3 linked regions of the Homo sapiens genome follow. The protein of the gene in region 1 interacts with the protein of each later gene in a pairwise test. Each region holds a gene or a part of one and is shown in the gene's direction. Other genes may lie near its edges.

Region 1 (7,113 bases):
GATTACCGATGTGAGCCGTCTTGGCCACCGGTCCCCTATTTATTAATGGACATTTAGTTCATTTCCAACCTTTTTTACTATTTACAAATGGTAGTTTAATAAATAACCCTGTACGGTAGTGTCCCTTCTTATCCACAGTTCCAGTTATTCAGTCAGTCACGGTCCAAAAATATAAAGTGGAAAATTTCAGAAGCAATTCGTAAGTTTTAAATTCTGTTATGAGTAGCACGATGAAATCTCATGCTGTCCCACCCTGGGCATGACTCATCCCTTCGTCTAGCATGTCCACACAGTAGATAAGTTACTTTGCTTTGTAGCCATCTAGATTATCAGATCAAAAAACATAGTATATAGAGGGTTTAGTCCTCTGCAGTTTCAGGCATCCAGTGGGGATCTTGGACTGTATCTCTTGTGGATAAGGAGGCACCACTGTACATGTCTCATTCACACATAGACATTTTATCTGTGATATAAATTCCTGAAAGCAGAATGACTGTTTCAAAGGGTAATGTGATTTATAATTTTGATAACTATTGCCAGATTGCCCCCCATGTGATTTTCTAATCCAGTAACTTGATTAACTTCATATAAAAACCATATAGTATTTTCTGAGAACTCACTGCCAGCTTTTCTACTGATTGTTTTCAGTAGTATCTCTTAAAAGTTTGGTTCTCAGACCACCTTTGTTGAATAAACCCTTAACAATTTGTGCCAGCCACTGGATAGAGACTGAGCCTTTTGCCTTCCTAGAGCTTACAGTGACACAAGTAAATAAAATGAACATGAAGAAAAATGGCAAGTAGCATTAGCTGTTAAAAAGAAAATAAGGATAATTTGGTAGAGAAAGACTGTTTGTTGGATAGGATGTATTAATTAGAATAGGCCAAACTCTGATATAACAGACCCCCAAAATATGGTAGCTTAAAGAGTACCAAGTTTCCTTCATTTTTGTGCAACAGTCCAGAATAGGTGTTCAGGTTAGTGGCTAGGCCGTCTTCCAGGTCCTGATCTCCTACCATCTTGTGGTTCCACCTTGCCCTAGGGCCTACTTGTCTACTGTGTCCAGCAGGCAGAAGGACTTGGGAGGTATTATCTTGTGTGCCAGGCTAGCAGTGACACAAGCTTTCATTCACATTCCATTGACAGCTTAGACATATGGCCATCAGTAAGTACAAGGGAGGCTGGGAAGTGTTGTGTAGCCATGTGCTCAGGAACGAGAAGAATATTGTGCACAACCAGTAGCTTCTGCCACAGTTGTTGAGGCAGCATCAGCCAGAGTGGTCAGGGAAGGCTCTGGAACTGAAGCGATGAAAAAGAGACATCCAAGCAATAAGAAAATCCAAGAAATAACATTTCTAGGCAGAAGGGAGCAGCGTGTTACTAGTACACTGAGGCATTTGAGAGATTTTGACCCAGGGGAGGAATGGAAGGCAGGTCTTCTTTGTTTGGAACTCAGGTAGCCAGGGATAGGATGGGTGGAGAAAGAGGTTAGAGAAGTGGGCATTGGCCAGATGATGCAGATCGTTGTATCCATTTGGGTTTATTTTGTTTTTCTAAGTGCAGTGAGAAGTCATTAAAGGATTTTAAATAGGGAAGTGATTGGATTTGTGTTAAGAAAAGATTGTTCCTGCTACCCTTTGGAGAAGGGCAAGGATGGAAACAAGGAGTTCATTTAAGGGGCTGTTGTGTTAGCGTAGGCAAGAGATGATGGGGATGAAGAGAAGAGGCCAAATTTGGAATCTGTTTCACAGGTAGACTCATAAGTTCTTGCTCATGGGTTGGACAGAGGCATTGTTGAGCAGCTAGGTAGATAGTAGTCCTTTATTGAAAGAAGAAAGATGGAGAGAGGAAGGACATGAGGGAAAAGTAAAGACTTCCTTTTGGACCTGCCCAGAATACTGTCCAGCCCTTTTCAGGAAATATTTGCTGACCCCTGGCATAAACAGGGCTCCCAAGGAAGGACAGTGGCTAGTGAAATAGATGAACCTATTTAAGGATATAACTTCCTAAAAATTGCAGCTTTCATGATGAAATTTTTTGCCCTTGAATGTATTTGGGATTTTGTGTTATAAAACTGTCTTAACACATTAAAAGTTTCAAAAACCGTTTCCCCCTGATTAATATGATGCTAGTTTGTTAGTGTCATGGCTTTTGATGGAAGATTAAAGCTTGGAAACAGTCCTCTGAAAAATCCTTTTAAAAATCTGTTCTTTCAGGTGCGTCAGCAATTTCCTGCTCCTCTTGGTTGGTCAGGCACTGAAGCTCCTACACAGGTCACTGTTGAAACTCATCCTGTTCAAGAAACAACCTTTCATGTAGCCCCTCAACAGAATGCATTGCATCATCACCATGGTAACAGTTCCCATCACCATCACCACCACCACCACCATCACCACCACCATGGACAACAAGCCTTGGGTAACCGGACCAGGCCAAGGGTCTACAATTCTCCAACGAATAGCTCCTCTACCCAAGATTCTATGGAGGTTGGCCACAGTCACCACTCCATGACATCCCTGTCTTCCTCAACGACTTCTTCCTCGACATCTTCCTCCTCTACTGGTAACCAAGGCAATCAGGCCTACCAGAATCGCCCAGTGGCTGCTAATACCTTGGACTTTGGACAGAATGGAGCTATGGACGTTAATTTGACCGTCTACTCCAATCCCCGCCAAGAGACTGGCATAGCTGGACATCCAACATACCAATTTTCTGCTAATACAGGTCCTGCACATTACATGACTGAAGGACATCTGACAATGAGGCAAGGGGCTGATAGAGAAGAGTCCCCCATGACAGGAGTTTGTGTGCAACAGAGTCCTGTAGCTAGCTCGTGACTACATTGAAACTTGAGTTTGTTTCTTGTGTGTTTTTATAGAAGTGGTGTTTTTTTTCCAAAAACAAAGTGCAAAGCTGCTTGAATCAGGAGGAGATTAACACACTGAACCGCTACAAGAGGGCAAAGCTGATTTTTTTTTTAACTTGAAAAGATTGCAAAGGGACATTGAAGTGTTTAAAAGAGCCATGTCCAAACCCATCTTCATGGATAGCTCAGAGGTATCCTCTTTTTGCTCCCCCATTTTAACTTGCCACATCCCAGTCACAGTGGGGTTTTTTTGTCTTTCTATTCAGCAAAAGTTAATATTCAGATGTTGGTCTTGGTCATTTGCCAACTAATTTTAAAGTAAAAGGCACTGCACATAATTTGCATAAAGGGCCCCATGAGGGTGTTTTTTTTTTTTCTTTTTGTCCCCCCCATCCCCCTTTTTTTTTGTTTTGTTCTGTTTTGTTTTGGGTGGGAGGGTGGGAAATTTGGGTTTTTAAGTCCTCTAAACACACTTGGGCACGGAAATGCAGTACTGTAAGGAAGAGGGACCTCCAGCTTCCACAAACACCATCTTCAGCTGTATGAAAGGGACGGTTGTGGTGAAGTTTGTCAGGCACAGTAAGCATGCTGAGTGGCGGGGATCAGAACTCTCCTATCTGAACCTACTGAGGAGCAAAGCAGCAATTACATGGGATCCTGTGGCTCTCCCGTTGCAGAGGCCACAGGAAGATAGGATGGAACGTGACTGGTCTCCTAACCAAGGTGCACTGAGAAGCAATCAACGGGTCGGTCGTGGCCAGTCCTGGGGAGGTCTGAGTGGTGGTCTTTGGGATAACCTTTGGCCTTATGGATTTGGACTCGAAATTAGAAGAGCCTACCATTTCAGATGCAATCACTTTTGGACATGCTTTTGCAGACAGTCCTTAATGCTGAAAACACAGAGAATGGGTAATTCAAGAGGCCTTTCTTTTAAAATAGACTTTTGTGACCCACTAATTGTAAGGTATTGCAAGGTCACTTTGCGTGTGTCATAAAGTTGACTTCCTTATTGGTTGAAGGTCACAGAAGTAGTGGTTTGCTTTGATGGAAATAGCTACAGCTGTGTCCCTTCCTGCTTTTTACTTTTTCTTTTGCTTTTTCTCGGCACGTGGTATCTCCACCATTTCTTCTGCACAAAGATGTCTTCTGTTCATCCTGAACATTTTTAAAAAATGCAGAATTTTATGTGACTGCTTTTTTGCCTCACAATTATGCTGTGAATTTTACAAAAATTTATTTTCTTTTTTGATAATTTATTGTACCAAAGCTGTTTTTATAGCACATAGATGTCTGTAACCAATAATGTAGCAGTTCTGCACTTTGACACAAGGTGTAACTAGACCATTTTTAAATGTCAGTTGAAAATTATGGCTGTACTATTGCTTAAACAAAACTGGAACTGTTGTTGAATCCATAGCCAATACATTTACAGCAATCTGTGTACTGAACATAGTAGATTGACATCTAATTCAAGATTACAACATCTGTTACATTCTAAGTGTGTTCAGGCTTCTGAAGGTAAAGGGACACTGGATCCAGAAGCTATGGAACCAGCAGTTGATTCTTGTATTCCTGATTAACCTACTTGTAAACTTGAAAGCAAGACCTTGATTGCACCAACAGGTCCAGAGTATGAGTGCAAGCAAAGCAGAACTCTCATGCGTGACCTGAGCAGACAGGCTGGTATTTAACAGGTGCCTCGTGTTGAGATTACGCTGCCTTAATGTAACACAGTCTGGCAGTTGCTAAATTTGTGTTCCCATTTTAAATTGACCAATTTTGGGGTGTGACACTTTTGAGCGGTTGAATTGGGAGAATGAAGATAAGTAATTTACCTGTCCAGGATCAAAAGAAGCCTAGAAAAGAAGCAGTAATCTACCTCTGCCGATAACCTGTTTAAGATGACTCAGCAGAACACCGCGTTTCATTCTATTGGTCAATTCCATGTGGCTGACTAGGTCAATTTTTTTTCTGAACAAAAGCAGGTTTTTATATGTAAACAGTGAGAAAAGAAAGGCTAAACACTATGTAAATGTGAATGGAAACTTGGAAATACTCGTTTTTATAAACTACAAAAACTTTTTGTTGTTTATCAGGAAATCCATATTTATTTTGTAATTAACTGTCAAGCCTGTGGATGATTTTTTTGAACTTGGTAGTTCATAAAGGTTTACAGTGAATAAAAGGATATCATCTTGAGTATAGCAATATCAAAAGGAATTCAGTAGTTACTGCTGTTTAGGAATATAAGGTTAAGATATCATATGGGTCAGGTCATTTTTTTTTTCTGTGCTGGTTGCCACATCTTAGCAAGCACCAAAAAACTAAAGCAGTTTTTAAACCGATATTTACGTAAAGAAAATCATAAAATCCAATGCTTCTGCATACTGTGTTATGTTACAGTCCAGTTTTGTGTGCTTTACTACACAGTTTGGTTACAGGACTTCTGTGCATTGTAAACATAAACAGCATGGAAAAGGTTAAATACCTGTGTTCAGATTGTAAGATCTAGTCCGGACTTGCTGTGTATATTGTAACGTTAAATGAAAAAAGAACCCCCCTTTGTATTATAGTCATGCGGTCTTATGTATGATAAACAGTTGAATAATTTGTCCTCAGACTCTTTACTATGCTTTTTTAAAAATTAATTTAAGAAAAATGTAAACATAGTAAAAATCTTCCTATGCAATTAAACTGGTCCAGGTCTGGTAGGTATAGTATCAAAGTTGAGTTAAATGTGTAAAAAGGAAACTATTTGAGATACATTGACATAGGCATCAGCAATCTCTGAAAGTAAAAATTGGAGGTTTAACAGATCATTTTGATTTTTCACATTGATTTTTTTATTTGAATGTTTACATAATTTTGTGATTCAAAATGCTCATATTTTAGTTGGTAGCATTTCGACTGGATGTGAGGGTCTGATGGTTTTCTCTGATATGCTTTGACGTGCTTGGATGAAGGAAGGAATACGAATACTCATTCTTCCTTCCCTAACTCCTCGTACGGGGCCATATCAGAATTCTAGAATTCTTGCCACTGTGATTCAATTGCTAACCTAAAGTCTTCTCTTTTTACAAATTCACCTGCTTCAGTATATATTAAGGTGGCTTTCGAGAGGCAAGATGCTTATTTAAAAGTTAAGCGTGAATCTGTAAAATTAAGGTTGGTTGCGTAAAGTTGAAGTTAACCACATGTAAGAAAGGAAAACTTCCATTAGTTTTCTTCTTAGGGTGTGAGAATTTTACCTAGGCACATGGATATTGGGCTGAAAAAAAAAAACCGACATTTTTATTTAAAACTACATGTAAAAAATCATGAAAGATTCAGTAATTATGTTAGGCTCACAAGTGACCATTGAGTTTGCCCCTGTACTGCTTCCCAGCTTTTGTGGTGTTGAACTTTTCTGTTCTTCCAATAGGGAGATACATAATCAAAATACACACGAAGACGAGATAGCAGGCACTCAGTTCTAGGCCAGTTTCTCAGTTTCCTTTGGGCCTGCCTTTATTTTGATAGTCGCAGAATGCAGGTTCAGATGCGATCCGGTGCATTCTGGGTGGTATCCCCATAGACAGAATACAAGTTCAAGACTCATTTTTATGTCCATTTTTATAGTGGTAGACTGTATGTAATAGACCAGATGGTTCATTCCAAATACATGACTTGGTCTTACTGCTATATATGAAGGAAGTTTGAAAATGTAATGGGGACAAAAGCCGTGCGTGACTTCGGTATACCCAGACTTCATTCAGATTTCTTAAAAATCTGCTAGGGATGTCTGTTGACCAGACGTTGGAAAACCTTTGGTGTCAGGGAGAGTAGAGGAGAAGTTCTGATTTTCATAACCCTGGTTTCTTATCTAGGCCTGTTTCCTTGCGTGAAAACATACATCACCAAGTAATTTGTAGTACAAAGAACAAGAGAAGAAACCCTAAGAAGATAGCTTATTTGTTATCCTCCCTTTTAATGACTAACCTTAATCCAAATGAATCCACTGAGAACCAGCCTGTGGATGCCTACTGGGCTTTCACCCTGGACCAGGAATTTTTGACGTATGCCTGTGTTGAAGGCACTGGATGCTTGTTTTGTGGAAGACATGTTCATTGAGGTAAGTGGCTCATCGCTTGGTGTGTTTGGCTCTCTTTGGCATTATGCATAGCCAAGGTCCCAGATTTTGGCTGCTCTCAGTGGGTGTTCTTGCATCAGAACTTTAAAAAAAATAACACTACCTTAACACTGAGACT
Region 2 (7,000 bases), on another chromosome or scaffold:
GTCTAGACTAGGTTGTAAGTTTCCTGCTTCATATAGCTAGTGAGCAATAGAACTAAGATTGGAATACTGGTGTCCTAATTCAGTTATCTTTGCCCTGGGAGCCTGGGCAGATGCGGATGCGAGGTGCGCTGGGAGGTGGCAGCGGTCTGGGGCAGTGGCCTGCGGTGGGTAGGCTGGGACCTCGCAGTCTCCCCACACACATGTGGGGCCCCACCACATGGCGCCTCCCTGCGGGCGTGCACCTGCAGCGGTGGGGGTGGCTGGGGCACCTGGGAACGGGGATGCCTTGCCCTCCGAGGTCTCCCCTGGGCGGCCGCCCATGCCATTTTCCGGGCTGCTCGCCTTCTAGAAGTTCCTGCAGGAAGCTGGTGATGTGGCCTCCCTGACCCGGGCCCGCCCCCCACCACTTTGCTGGAGGGGTAGTCAGATTCCAGCCGGGATACGTAGCAGCAGCTTGGTGGCAGGCGATAGGAAAATGGGCAAAAGCCCCAACTGGCTGGAAGGCAACCCCGGGGGCCGGACCTCCTTGTGGGAGGGCCCGGGACTGCACTAGGCGGGAGTGGAGGCCGCGGCTCCAGGCTGGTCTCGGCCTGGTAATTTGACACGGCCAGCCGGTCACTGTTTAAGGCACTGTGTACCATTTTACTAACTTAATCCTCACGGTGACCGCATTTCCCAGCTGGGCCAACTGGTGCGGGGTTGACTGGAAGCGACCGGGGTTGACTGGAAGCGACCGGCATAGCGCTTGGCAAGTATATAGCAGGTAGTAAAATGGCTGTAATTTTGAAAGTTAGCTTTGTGAAGTGTTGGGGCTGCGGCATCTGCTGGTGGTGTGTGGTATTACAGCCCCGTGCTGGCGGACCCCATTGGGTTGGGGAGCGTTGCGAGATTGTGGCCCCAGAGCCAAGTGGGCAGTTAGGGGTCTCTGGAGACTCTGGAAGGAGAGGTAGCACAAAAGACAGCGGAGGTGTTCGCTTCGGCAGCACATATACTAAAATTGGAACGGTACAGAGATTAGCATGGCCCCTGCGCGAAGATGGCACGCAAATTTGTGAAGCGTTCCATCAAAAAAATAAAAAAATAAAAAATAATAAAAAAAAATGGGGGACTGCGGAGGAGCTAAAATTTCGAGACTGCATGTTTGTTTTTTTTTGTGCACCAGCAGCTCATTAGAAGAATTCCTCAATTGCTGCTTCAACACCCGCCACGATGGCGTTCAACCTGGCAGATTAATTTAACAACTCTCTGATGGGTTGCCCTGAAATTTGAAAAACAGTGCCTTGGGCTGGGCGCGATGGCTCACACCTGTAATCCCAGCATTTTGGGAGACCGAGGCGGGCGAATCACCTGAGGTCGGGAGTTGGAGACCAGCCTGACCAACATGGAGAAACCCCATCTCTACTAAAAATACAAAATTAGCGGGGCATGGTGGCGCATGCCTGTAATCCCAGCTACTCGGGAGGCTGAGGCTTGAACCCGGGAGGCGGAGGTTGCACTGAGCCGAGATCACGCCATTGCACTGCAGCCTGGGCAATGAGCAAAACTCTGTCTCAAGAAAAAAACAAAACAAAACAAAAAACAGTGGCTTAAGCAAAGGCCACAAGAAAGAATTGAGATCAAAGAGGAGTGTGTGCCATGGCTATGGAGGGGTTTCAGTTGTGAATTATGAAATGTCATGTAAACCATTTCAAGCATTTCAAGGAGTTTGAATTTTATATAAAAAACAATGGGAAGACGCTGCAAGTTTTGAAGCAGCATCTCAGACATGTTGAAAAAGATGTTTGGATCCCTAAAATAATGAGAGAAAAGGCCAGAGAGAGGTGTTCTGAACAACTTCAAGATTTTACCAAATGTTGCAAGAACTCTGGAACCCTTACGGTAGGAAAATGCTGGAAAGAAAATTCTCTATTGAAAGGACGTCTAACTGCTCACTATAATGATCCAGCCTTTTATGAAGAATGCAAAATGGAATACCTGAAGGAAGGAAGAATTCAGAAAAACTGGAATTTCTACAAAGAGAAGGCTACAGAAACTTCCCATAAGCCTGTAGGCAAATATTCAAATGATATTCAGGAACTCTAATATTCATGGAAGTCATTTATAGTATAAATTTCCTTAAATAATGGACTCAAGAATGTGTGTTTGCTTTATCCTAATTATGGAAATATTAATTTTTATCTGAAATAAAGATCTTTTATTTCAAAAACGAAAATAAACCCCACACTTCATTAGGGCAGGATTAACATTTGAATTCTACATGTATACATTTCAATCTCCTTTGACCTTGGTTTCATCATCTCTAAAGTTAGGAGTATGTAGTAGTTAGCAGTTGGTTTCCTCACCCTGTAGTAGGGATTCCTCAATCCGGGAAGTGTATGTGTTAGCTTTGTGGAGCCTCTTCAGGTCTGTGGTAGGCTTTCCAGTTGGCATGGGAGTACTTTGAGATCTATGGCTTGCTCTTCCTTTTTAGGCTAGCAGAACCCTATACTTTCTATTGGACTGGAAGCCCATTTCTCTGATGGTTCCAGTGGAAAGCCTTTGTGAACAATAAATCCCAACTAAGTGTTAGGGAACACTGTATTTATTTACTTTTCCTTTGAAGTCTTTGATGCCATTTAGACTGGAAAGTTGTGAAAAATGGAGGTGGAGGTAGTGGGCAGGTGACTATCTCCTTTTCTTTAGTGTGTTCCAAGCTGTAACTTACTAGAGTGCTTTGGCCAAGAGAGCATCTGGTATGATTGGCATGGATTGGAATGACCTGTAGACTCTCACTCTGTCCCCAGAGCCATCATGAAGCTGAATGGCCACCAGTTGGAGAACCATGCCCTGAAGGTCTCCTACATCCCCGATGAGCAGATAGCACAGGGACCTGAGAATGGGCGCCGAGGGGGCTTTGGCTCTCGGGGTCAGCCCCGCCAGGGCTCACCTGTGGCAGCGGGGGCCCCAGCCAAGCAGCAGCAAGTGGACATCCCCCTTCGGCTCCTGGTGCCCACCCAGTATGTGGGTGCCATTATTGGCAAGGAGGGGGCCACCATCCGCAACATCACAAAACAGACCCAGTCCAAGTGAGTCTTGGCTCTTGGGGAATGGAGGTTGGGTGCTAGGGAACAGTGGTTGGTACCTAAAGAGGCCTCCTGGAAGCATGCTGGAGACATCAACATTTACCTTTTAGGAAATGTTGCCTGGAGCATTCAGGGGTCCCTGCTTCCAATACCAGCCTCCTGGGAAAGGGAGGGCAGATAGGGAGGGAGAATGGGTCTGGGGTGCTAGGCCACACACTCGTATTAGCAAGAGAGATTCTATAATTTCTCATGTGAAGTTTCATAAAAAAAGTCTCCAAGCAAACCTCATTTTGATGAGTCAGCAACTCAGTGCTCTGTGATTTCATGATCACTTAGTGTGGTAACAGGGCTGGCCAACCTGTCCAAAATTAGGACCTTCATAATTGTGTCCCATCTCCCATTCTGCCACTGCCACCTTCTTTCTTTAATATTTTTTTTTTTTTTTTTTTGAGACAGAGTTTTGCTCTGTTGCCCAGGCTGGAGTGCAGTGGTGCGATCTCAGCTCACTGCAACCTCTGCCTCCCGGGTTCAAGCAATTCTCCTGCCTCAGCCTCCCGAGTAGCTGGGATTACAGGCGCGTGCCACCATGCCCAGCTAATTTTTGTATTTTTAGTAGAGACAGGGTTTCACCATGTTGATCAGGCTGGTTACGAACTCCTGACCTCGTGATCCGGCCGCCTCAGCCTCCCAAAGTGCTGGGATTAAAGGCGTGAGCTACCACACCCGGCCTTTTCTCTAATCTTTATATCTGATCAGTGTACTCAGTGGCAAAGAACAGGTCATATTATGTCCTTATCATAGTAAATCTTGTTATTTACTTTGAGTTTGGGGCACTGTGTCTTCTCTTTATATTTGTTTCAAGGGGGACATACGGAATTCAAGCGGAAATGCAGCTTTGGAGCTGTGGGCTGGTAATTCCCACCCCTGCATTTGTGTCATAGGCTGTGTTCTTGTCCCCAACCACTGCTTGCTTATTTATTTATTTTTATTTTATTTTTTGAGGCAGAGTCTCACTGCGTCACCCAGGCTGGAGTGTAGTGGTGTGATCTCAGCTCACTGCAGCCTCCTCCCAGGTTCAAGCAATTCTTGTGCCTCAGCCTCCTTAGTAGCTGGGATTACAGGTGTGCACCACCACACCCAGCTAAATTTTTTGTATTTTTAGTAGAGGCGGGGTTTCACCATGCTGGCCAGGCTGGTCTCAAACTCCTGGCCTCAAGTAACCCACCCGCCTCGGCCTCCAAAAGTGCTGGAATTACAGGCGTGAGCTCCCGTGCCTGGCCACCAACCACCTGTGGATTGAGACACTGCTGGTCTGAGACAGAATCCACAGTAACAGACGGGTCATATTTCTCCAGTCCTTTCATTGCCCTTCCCAAAGTTGTACTTGATTGTCCTTGTTTCAAGAAGAGCAGGTTCTATGCCTTTGACTGAGGAGGGGTAGTGGGGTGGGGAGCCTGAAGTACTGGTATCACTGGGGACAACTAACCAGCCTTGTCCTTGTGGCCCCCAGGATAGACGTGCATAGGAAGGAGAACGCAGGTGCAGCTGAAAAAGCCATCAGTGTGCACTCCACCCCTGAGGGCTGCTCCTCCGCTTGTAAGATGATCTTGGAGATTATGCATAAAGAGGCTAAGGACACCAAAACGTAAGTCTCCAGCTTTTCTTGGATCTTCAGGGTCTGCTAGTCCAGTTGAGCCTCCCCAACTCAACTTTCAAGCTTTTATACAGACATATAAGAAATACAGTCAGCAATTGCACAAAAAGATGTAAACTGAGAAATAAAATCTTTCTTCTTACAGGACTTTGTCACCTAGGCTGGAGTACAGTGGCATGATCTCAGCTCACTGCAACCTCTGCCTCTGGATCTCAAGGGATCCTCCCGCCTCAGCCTTCTGAGTAGCTAGGACAACATGCATGCACCACCACGCCTGCCTAGTTTTTTGTGATTTTTGTAGAGATGGGGTGTCGCCATGTTACCCAGGCTGGTCTTGAACTCCTGGACTCAAGTGACCCACCCAGCTCAGCCTCCCAAAGAGCTGGGATTACAGGCGTGTGCCACCACACCCCATCCCTTCTTATTCCTGTCGTATGACCTCCTAGAAATTCTGTGCACTCACAGGTGTGTGTATATTGTGTCTGCGTGCCTGCATGTACGGATATGTGTGCCTGTGTGTATTCACTTGTGCGTGTATGCACATGTGTTTTAGCTCAGAGAGAATCACACTGAACAGGCTGTTCTATACTTTTTTCATTTTCTGTATCAGCACATATATTAGTACATATGGACAGACCGCATTATTTTTATAGCTGCATAGAATTCCACAGTATAGCTATTCATAGTTCATGTAATCAATCTCCTATTTCTTGATGGGTGTTTAAATTGTTTTAAACTTTTCCTTATCAGAAAACAGTGATGCAAGGAATCTGCTTACACATGTTCCTTTACACACTTGTGCTGTTTAAAATAGCTTTATTGGCTGGGCACGGTGGCTCATGCCTCTAATCCCAGCACTTTGGAGGCTAGGAGTTCTAGACCAGCCTGGGCAACATAGTGAAACCTCACCTCTACAGAAAATAGAAAAATCAGCTGGACGTGGCGGCCTGTGCGTATAGTCCCAGCTACTCGGAAGGCTGAGAAGGGAGGATCGCATGAGCCCAGGAGGTCAAGGCTGTGGTGAGCCTTGATAGTGCCACTGCATTCCAGCCTGGGTGATAGAGTGAGACCCTGTCTCAAAAAATAAAACAAATTGGCTTTATTGATGTTCAATTGATGTATAATAAATCATACATATTTTTAAAGTATGCAGTTTGATAAGTTTTGAGATGTTTTACTTGGAAATGCCAAGTCTGGGGTGGCATGGTGATTGAGTCTTCATGAAGCCCACAATTGAAGGAACTCTTGTCTTCCACTTCTTCCTTTGTCTTCCCAAGGGCTGACGAGGTTCCCCTGAAGATCCTGGCCCATAATAACTTTGTAGGGCGTCTCATTGGCAAGGAAGGACGGAACCTGAAGAAGGTAGAGCAAGATACCGAGACAAAAATCACCATCTCCTCGTAAGGCTCTCTTCTATTTCCCTGTTTATGAGTGGGGGATGCATGGGGGCCAGGGTCAGTATTTCATCATGGAACCTTGATATGTGCTCTTTTAAAATGGGTGCTCCTTCTGCCTCTTGAAGAAAAACAGTCGAAGTGGTAAAGAGCATTTAAAAAATCCCTGTAAGGACTGGATCTGCCCATTCCCACTGCCATATGGGGCAGGGGTGTTGTAAGGTGCTGCCTCTACAGTCCACGTCCAACCACTTCACAGCCCTCTTTCCCTGTGGCTCGTGGACAGCCTGCAGCTAGGAGCCAGGGATTCAGGGCTTTAGGCTTGTCTGTCACTGTGAGAAGTGACCTTGGCCCTTTTCTGTCTGTGGTGGGCTGCTCCTGCAAGCAGTGTGCTTCGTTTCATCAGAGACTAACCTGTGGGCAAAGTAATTGCTCTTGTCCAAAAAGGTATAGGACATGGATTATGTAGAATCAATGGGGAAACTTGGAGGCACAACCATAATCTGAGATTGGATCCATTGCTAACAGAGGAGTTTGAGTTAGGTGTTGGCATCTCCCTCCATCTTACCCCCTGCCCTGGTTACAAACTGGGAACACCAAAGACTGGGGTTGCAGAGTTATTTGCCAGAAGTTGAATAGGCTGCAGAAATGGTGGGCCTGTGACTCAGCTGGCCTCTCGTCTTTGTTACTGCCGGGGCCTGGTCCTGGCCTGCCAGTGAAAGGACACAACTCTGCTCTTTCTGCCAGGTTGCAAGACCTTACCCTTTACAACCCTGAGAGGACCATCACTGTGAAGGGGGCCATCGAGAATTGTTGCAGGGCCGAGCAGGAAATAATGAAGAAAGTTCGGGAGGCCTATGAGAATGATGTGGCTGCCATGAGCGTGAGTG
Region 3 (7,000 bases), on another chromosome or scaffold:
AAGTTAGCTGGGTGTGGTGGCAGGCGTCTGTAGTCCCAGCTACTCAGGAGGCTGAGGCAGGAGAATGGCGTGAACCCGGAAGGCGGAGCTTGCAGTGAGTTGAGATCGCACCACTGCACTCCAGCCTGGGTGACAGAGCGAGACTCCGTCTCAAAAAAAAAAAAAGACTTAGTTGTTCCAAGTTATTTCCTCCTCTCTTAAATCTTTCTTGTGGGCACAGAGGTAGCAAACGACCAAATAAAAGCAATACAAGATTCCAAGGGGCAACTGATTGAAAATATGTATCCATATCACTACACTGGTGATACTTGAATATGCATAAGGATTCTCATATGCTATCATGTGAAAACAAATTTTTGTTAGCTCTCCATGCATTTGACCTAGGTTTTTTTTTTCTAAGCATATCTTCAAACTTAATTTACCTGCTTAATTCATCTCTGGCTTCTAGCAATTTAGTTGCTTATATCCTTTAGAATCTGACTTTTGCTGTCATCAAATCATGCTCATGTATTTGCATACTATGGGCATGAAGCAGGGCAAGTTACATAAAAGAGCCCAGCTCTCCTGGTTTTCCCAGTGATTAGTATTAAGGAACTATGAAGTGTAATCTCTGGATGGAGCCAAGTTTCGTGAAGATGGGTTGGGGATAGGAATGAGAATCAAAGTTGAAATGCCCTTTAAATGATCCACAATTAAGGAAAGCTTGGAACTGGGTCTTAAAGCCATATAAAATCAGACCTCTTGTGGGCAAAGTCTGGAGTATCCAGGATAATACCAGATGTACTGAAAATCAGACTTTATTTGATATGTGTTGCTAAATAAATAAAAGGAAAACTCTGTCTTCAATTTATGAGAGTGAAAGTATATGGCTACCTGACATTTTTATATAATCTTTAAAACTTTTGCCTTTAAAAAGTTACCTAGAAACATGTCATTAGTCCTTCTGGGTCACTGGGGAAGATTAGGAGTGGGATTGAGATTGGTCATTGCTCAGGAGACATTGTAAATTTGGATGCTCCCAGCTTCTCTGCATTTATCTTTTTTTTTTTTTTTTGAGACAGTCTTGCTCTGTCGTCCAGGCTGGAGTGCAGTGGCGTGATCTCGGCTCACTGCAACCTCCTGGGTTCAAGTGATTCTAATGCCTTAGCCTCTCAGTAGCTGGGACTACAGGCACATGCCACCATGCCGGACTAATTTTTGTATTTTTAGTAGAGACAGGGTTTTGCCATGTTGGTCAGTCTGGTCTCGAACTCCTGGCCTCAAGTGATCTGCCCGCCTTAGCCTCCCAAAGTGCTGCAATTATAGGTGTGAGTCACTGCACCTGGCCCTTCTCTGCATTTATCTACTGGGAGGTTCCTACACTGAAATCAGATAGCCTATGCCCTACAGCTTCTGTTCCATGGGTACTCTAAATTTGTGGCACTCCCAAAGGGAGATTAGGTAGGTTCTCAGGAGGGTGGAGGTTAGTCTCAGATACCAGCTTACCCCAATTTCCTTGTTTTTTCAGGACACCTGACTGATAGTGAATGTAATCAGAAACACACATCCAAGAAAGGGTCACTGATAGAGCGCAAGAGGAGCTCTGGTCGGGTTAGGAGGAAAGGCGATGAGCCCCAGGCCTCGGGATACCACAGTGAAGGCAAGCCCTTCTGCACTGCTTCTCTTTCTCCTTCATTCACTCTATCAAACTTCTGTCATGCTCCAGACTGTTGGCTTCTCCTTTCTGTTCAGAGGGCTTTTCTTTGCTTTTTCGACATTGGGGTCTAGTATCCATGATCACTTTAAACATCTATATTTCTTTCATTCTTTGTGTTTTTAGGAGAAACACTGAAAGAGAAGCAGGCTCCTAGAAATGCCTCCAAACCATCCAGCAGCACCAACAGGCTGAGAGATTTTAAAGAGACAGTCAGCAATATGATCCATAACAGACCATCCCTGGCTTCTCAGACCAATGTAGGCTCTCACTGCAGGGGCAGAGGAGGAGACCAGCCTGACAAAAAACCTCCTAGGACCCTGCCTTTACACTCTCGTGACTGGGAAATAGAGAGTACCAGCAGTGAGTCAAAATCCAGTTCTTCCAGCAAGTATCGTCCCACATGGAGACCCAAACGAGAATCTCTGAATATTGACAGTATCTTTAGTAAGGACAAAAGGAAGCACTGTGGCTATACCCAGCTTAGCCCCTTTTCTGAGGATTCAGGTGAGGAGATAATTAGGGAAGAATTGGGCTTTTGAATAAAGTTGATTTATGTCTTTTTAAAACCTGGGTTTTTTGGTACATCTGGCAAGGGGCACTTTTACTCTGATGTCGGGTGTTTTAGGGATATGAGTTCAGTGAATAAGTAGCTAGAGGGAGGAGCTAGTTAGGTCTTGATTTTAGGCAAATGCTAAATCTACCTCATTTTCCATACCTGTCTTTTGATTGGGATAGCTAAAGAATTTATACCAGATGAACCAAGCAAGCCACCTTCTTACGACATTAAATTTGGTGGACCAAGCCCCCAGTACAAGCGCTGGGGCCCAGCACGGCCAGGCTCTCACCTTTTAGAGCAGCACCCCCGACTAATCCAGCGAATGGAATCTGGCTATGAAAGCAGTGAGAGGAACAGCAGCAGCCCTGTCAGCCTGGATGCAGCCCTGCCTGAGAGCTCAAATGTCTACAGGTATTGTTTGGCCTTTGAACAGCAACATTGTCTCTTGCAGCAATGTGAGCCACCTACTTGGGGCTTTCAGGCATGGCTGAGACAAGTGGAGGGATGGCCTTTGCTATTATCTCTATGTGCTCTTTCAACTTCCTATAACAACAGCACCCTCTGCTGGAAGAACAGAGGCACTTGAGAAAGGAGAGAGAACTTTCTATTTGAAATACAGTTATCATGTATAAAATAATTTTAAAAAATTAGGTTCAGGGGGCATATGTGCAGGTTTGTTAGGATAAACTTGTGTCATAGGAGTTCATTGTACAGATTATTTTGTTACCCACATATTAAGCTAGTACTCACTAATTATTTTTCCTGATCCTTTCTTTCCTCCCACCCTCCACCCTCCGATAGGCCTGTGTCTGTTGTTCCCCTCTGTGTGTTCATGTGTCCTCACCATGTAGCTCCCACTTATAAGTGACAATATGCTGTATTTGGTTTTCTGTTCCTGTCTTAGTTTGCTAAGGATAATGAAATAATTGTTTAGTGCTTGCTTTGGTAGCACATATACTAAAATTGGAACAATACAGAGAAGATTAGCATGGCTCCTGCTCAAAGGTGGCACAAAAATTTGTGAAGATTTCTGTATTTTTCAGATATGTAGGATAAACAAGTCTAGGGATCTAATGTAAAACATGACTACAATTAATAAAATTGTACTGCATATGAGATTCATGGTAAATGAGTAGATTTTAACTCCTCTTGCCACAAAAACAAAAAAAATGGGTAACTATATGAGATGATGGGTATATTAATTTCCTTCAATTATAGTAACCATTTTACTGTCTCTATGTATCTCATAACATCATGTTGTATACCTTAAATATACACAGTAAAAAAATGTATTAAAGAACAGATTAGGTCAGGCATGTTGGCTCACGCCTGTAATCCCAGGCTAGCACAAAAATTAGTGAGGCATGGTGGTGGGCGTCTGTAATCCCAATTACTTGGGAGGCTAAGGCAGGAGAATCGCTGGAATCCAGGAGGTGGAGGTGGTAATGAGCCGAGCTCGTGCCATGGCAACTCCAGCCTAGGCGACAGAGCAAGGCTCCATCTCAAAAAAAAAAAAAAGAAACAAAAACGGACTAGGCCTGCCGCAGTAGCTCACGCTTGTAATCCCAGCACTTTGGGAGGCCGAGGCGGGTGGATCACGACGTCAGAAGTTCGTGACCAGCCTGGCCAACATGGTGAAACCCCGTCTCTACTAAAGATACAAAAACAAAAATTAGCCGGGCGTGGTGGTGGGAGCCTGTAATCCCAGCTACTTGGGAGGCTGAGGCAGGAGAATTACTTGAACCCAGGAGGTGGACGTTGCAGTGAGCCAAGATCGTGCCATTGCACTCCAGTCTGGGCAACAGAGTGAAACTCCATCTCAAAAAAACAAACAAACAAAAAAAGAATGTATTAGTGGGCCAGGCGCGGTGGCTCATGCCTGTAATCCTAGCACTTTGGGAGGCCGAGCTGGGTGGATCACAAGGTCAGGAGATCGAGAACATCTTGGCCAACATGGTGAAACCCCGTCTCTACTAAAAACACAAAAATTAGCTGGGCATGGTGGCGCGCACCTCTAGTCCCAGCTACTCTGGAGGCTGAGGCAGGAGAATCACTTGAACCCGGGAGGCGGAGTTTGCAGTGAGCCAAGATCACGTCACTGCACTCCAGCCTGGGTGACAAGAGCGAAACTCCATCTCAAAAAGAATGGATTAGTGAATTAAAACTTATGTAATACTAAAATCAGAGAAGAAGCCCAAATGTTATTTTGGGACAGTGTTTTGTTGTCGTTGCTTTTTTTTTTTTTTTTTTTTTGGTATCGATGGGGTTTCATCATTTTGCCCAGGCTTGTCTTGAACTCCTGGGCTCAAGTGATTTACCCACCTCAGCCTCCCAGAGTACTGAGATTATAGGTGTGAGTCACCACACCCAGTATGGTGGGATAGTTTTTATTTTGATTTGTTTTAGGGTCACTGGGACTTTGTGTTTTATAATGCTAATAATATTCATAATAATGATGACAGTTTATTAGCACTCATTGTACCCTGCCCATAGGGCTCAGTTTGCTTTATAACTTTCAAATCTCCATACATTATTTTTACTGAGTTGCCACAGAGGCAATTTTTCTGTTTTCTTTTTTTTTTTTTTTTTTTTGAGATGGAGTGTCTCGCTCTGTCACCAGGCTGGAGTGCAATGGCACGATCTCGGCTCACTGCAACCTCTGCCTCCTGGGTTCAAGCGATTCTCCTGCCTCAGCCTCCCTAGTAGCTGGCACTACAGGCGCCCACCACCACACCCAGCTAATTTTTGTAATTTTAGTAGAGATGGGGTTTCACCATGTTGGCCAGGATGGTCTTGATCTCTTGATCTCATGATCCGCCTGCCTCAGCCTCCCAAAGTGCTGGGATTACAGGCATGAGCCACTGTACCTGGCCAAGGCAATTTTTCTAATAGTAGAGCTGCTTTGAAAAGCATGATTATATCTTCTACAAAGGTGATAACCACATGTTCATACTCTGTCAATGTTCTTCCCTGTCCACAGGATCCTGTTGAGTTTTACTTATGAGAAGATGCTACAAAGGTTTAGTAAGAAAGAAGGAAATAAATATGAAACCAATATGTTCATTAGTACATTCAACAGATTTTGAATATGTATTATGTACCAGATACTGTGCTAGATGCACAAGTTGTGAATGAGGTGAGATGAGGTTAGATAGGAGAATGAGTGGATATTTCAATTCTTCAGAAGTAGTTTAGCAGAAGCTCTAATTGTGTAGTTTGATTTTTTTTTTTTGAGAGAGAGATTTAGTCCTAGGAATGTTGCTATAACCTGCTTTCATGCTTTCACTAGACTCTGAGTTCTCTTTTGAAGGGATCCAAGTGCTAAGAGATCAGCTGGGTTGGTTCCTTCCTGGCGTCATATCCCAAAGTCGCACAGCAGTAGCATCCTGGAGGTAGACTCCACAGCATCCATGGGTGGCTGGACAAAGAGTCAGCCTTTCTCTGGTAAGCAGAATGACACTGAATTTGAGGACTGGATTTGACCGGCAGTTTTGTCTGGGGACCAGACTTACCTGAGCACATTTGAAATTAGAGGACAGTTACAGGCCGGGCGCGGTGGCTCACACCTGTAATCCCAGCACTTTGGGAGGCCGAGGCAGGCAGATTGCCTGAGCTCAGGAGTTCGTGACCAGCCTGGGCAACATGGTGAAACCCCGTCTCTACTAAAATACAAAAAATTAACCAGCGTAGCGGCGTGCACCTGTAGTCCCAGCTGCTCGGGAGGCTGAGGCAGGAGAATTGCTTGAACCTGGGAGGCGGAGGTTGCAGTGAGCCAAGATCGTGCCACTGCACTCCAGCCTGGGCGACAGAGTGAGACTCCATTTCAAAAAAAAAGAGGACAGTTACAGTTTGAGTATTCCATCAGAATGTAAATGTAGAGTCATTTCAGTTGCTCCATCTTTGGATTTATCTATTTTTTGTTCTCCATCACAGCCTGCATGAATATTTCTTTCTACCTGGAGGGAGCCCTTGTGGGAGCAAGAAGGGACAGAAATATGGTGAACAGTGTTACTAACATCCCCATTCTTCAGAAGAATAAATCCTAGGGCTTTCCTTGGATTAGGGACAGCCTCTTGGGAAATGGATTTCTTATTGTTTAGTATTATGAATTGACATACCAAAGGGGTACATGTGGCTATTTGCAAAACTTGGAAATAAGCAATTCAAATTTATCCTTACCCCTGGCTAAATATCTTAGTCTTACTACCAATTCTCTTGATAGTTACTGACAATTCTTAGAGGTAGCAGGAAGAAAGGCCTGCAGCAGCAGTAGTAAAAAGGCATGAACCCTTTTAGGTATGTATACTAAAGGTTGTGGACATCTGGCAGAGCAGAACAATGCCTATAGAGGCAGATATCTCTGGAATCCTGGGCTCTAGTAAGTTATAGTTAGAGACACGTGGAAGACATTTGGGCTTCCCATTGTAATTATACATTTGATTTATTCCCCACATTTTAATTTATTTCATGTTGAATAACATTGTTTCAAGAAACTTGTGAATCGTGCATGAGACTATTCTCCCTTCTCTTCAGATAGCCAGCATTTTTTTAATTACACTAATGACTGAGTCTCATGATCTCCTGAATAGTCCTCAATTCTGGACCAGTTGGATAGAATTCACCAACAGCGTTCTTCAACTGGTAAAAGATAATTAGCAAGGAGTTATGACAAGATTCTTCACACACCATATCACCCCACCATCCTGTTTGTATAATAAGCCCTATTTATGCGCCACAATTTGATCTAA

What was found.
Region 2: the proteins of DYRK1A (region 1) and IGF2BP1 interact in binary tests that used the Homo sapiens proteins (3 or more experiments, as listed by UniProt).
Region 3: the proteins of DYRK1A (region 1) and USP54 interact in binary tests that used the Homo sapiens proteins (3 or more experiments, as listed by UniProt).

Annotation. Positions count from the first base shown.
Region 1 is NC_000021.9:37,509,695-37,516,807, forward strand, and holds part of DYRK1A (dual specificity tyrosine-phosphorylation-regulated kinase 1A), read left to right. Parts: intron 1-2,216; coding exon 2,217-2,837; 3' UTR 2,838-7,113. UniProt on the Homo sapiens protein: Dual-specificity kinase which possesses both serine/threonine and tyrosine kinase activities. Exhibits a substrate preference for proline at position P+1 and arginine at position P-3.
Region 2 is NC_000017.11:49,035,385-49,042,384, forward strand, and holds part of IGF2BP1 (insulin-like growth factor 2 mRNA-binding protein 1), read left to right. Parts: intron 1-2,783; coding exon 2,784-3,065; intron 3,066-4,572; coding exon 4,573-4,707; intron 4,708-5,993; coding exon 5,994-6,116; intron 6,117-6,857; coding exon 6,858-6,993; intron 6,994-7,000. UniProt on the Homo sapiens protein: RNA-binding factor that recruits target transcripts to cytoplasmic protein-RNA complexes (mRNPs). This transcript 'caging' into mRNPs allows mRNA transport and transient storage.
Region 3 is NC_000010.11:73,525,343-73,532,342, reverse strand, and holds part of USP54 (ubiquitin carboxyl-terminal hydrolase 54), read left to right. Parts: intron 1-1,507; coding exon 1,508-1,639; intron 1,640-1,819; coding exon 1,820-2,200; intron 2,201-2,431; coding exon 2,432-2,663; coding exon of another isoform or gene 2,664-2,838; exon of another isoform or gene 2,839-3,154; intron 3,155-5,562; coding exon 5,563-5,696; intron 5,697-7,000.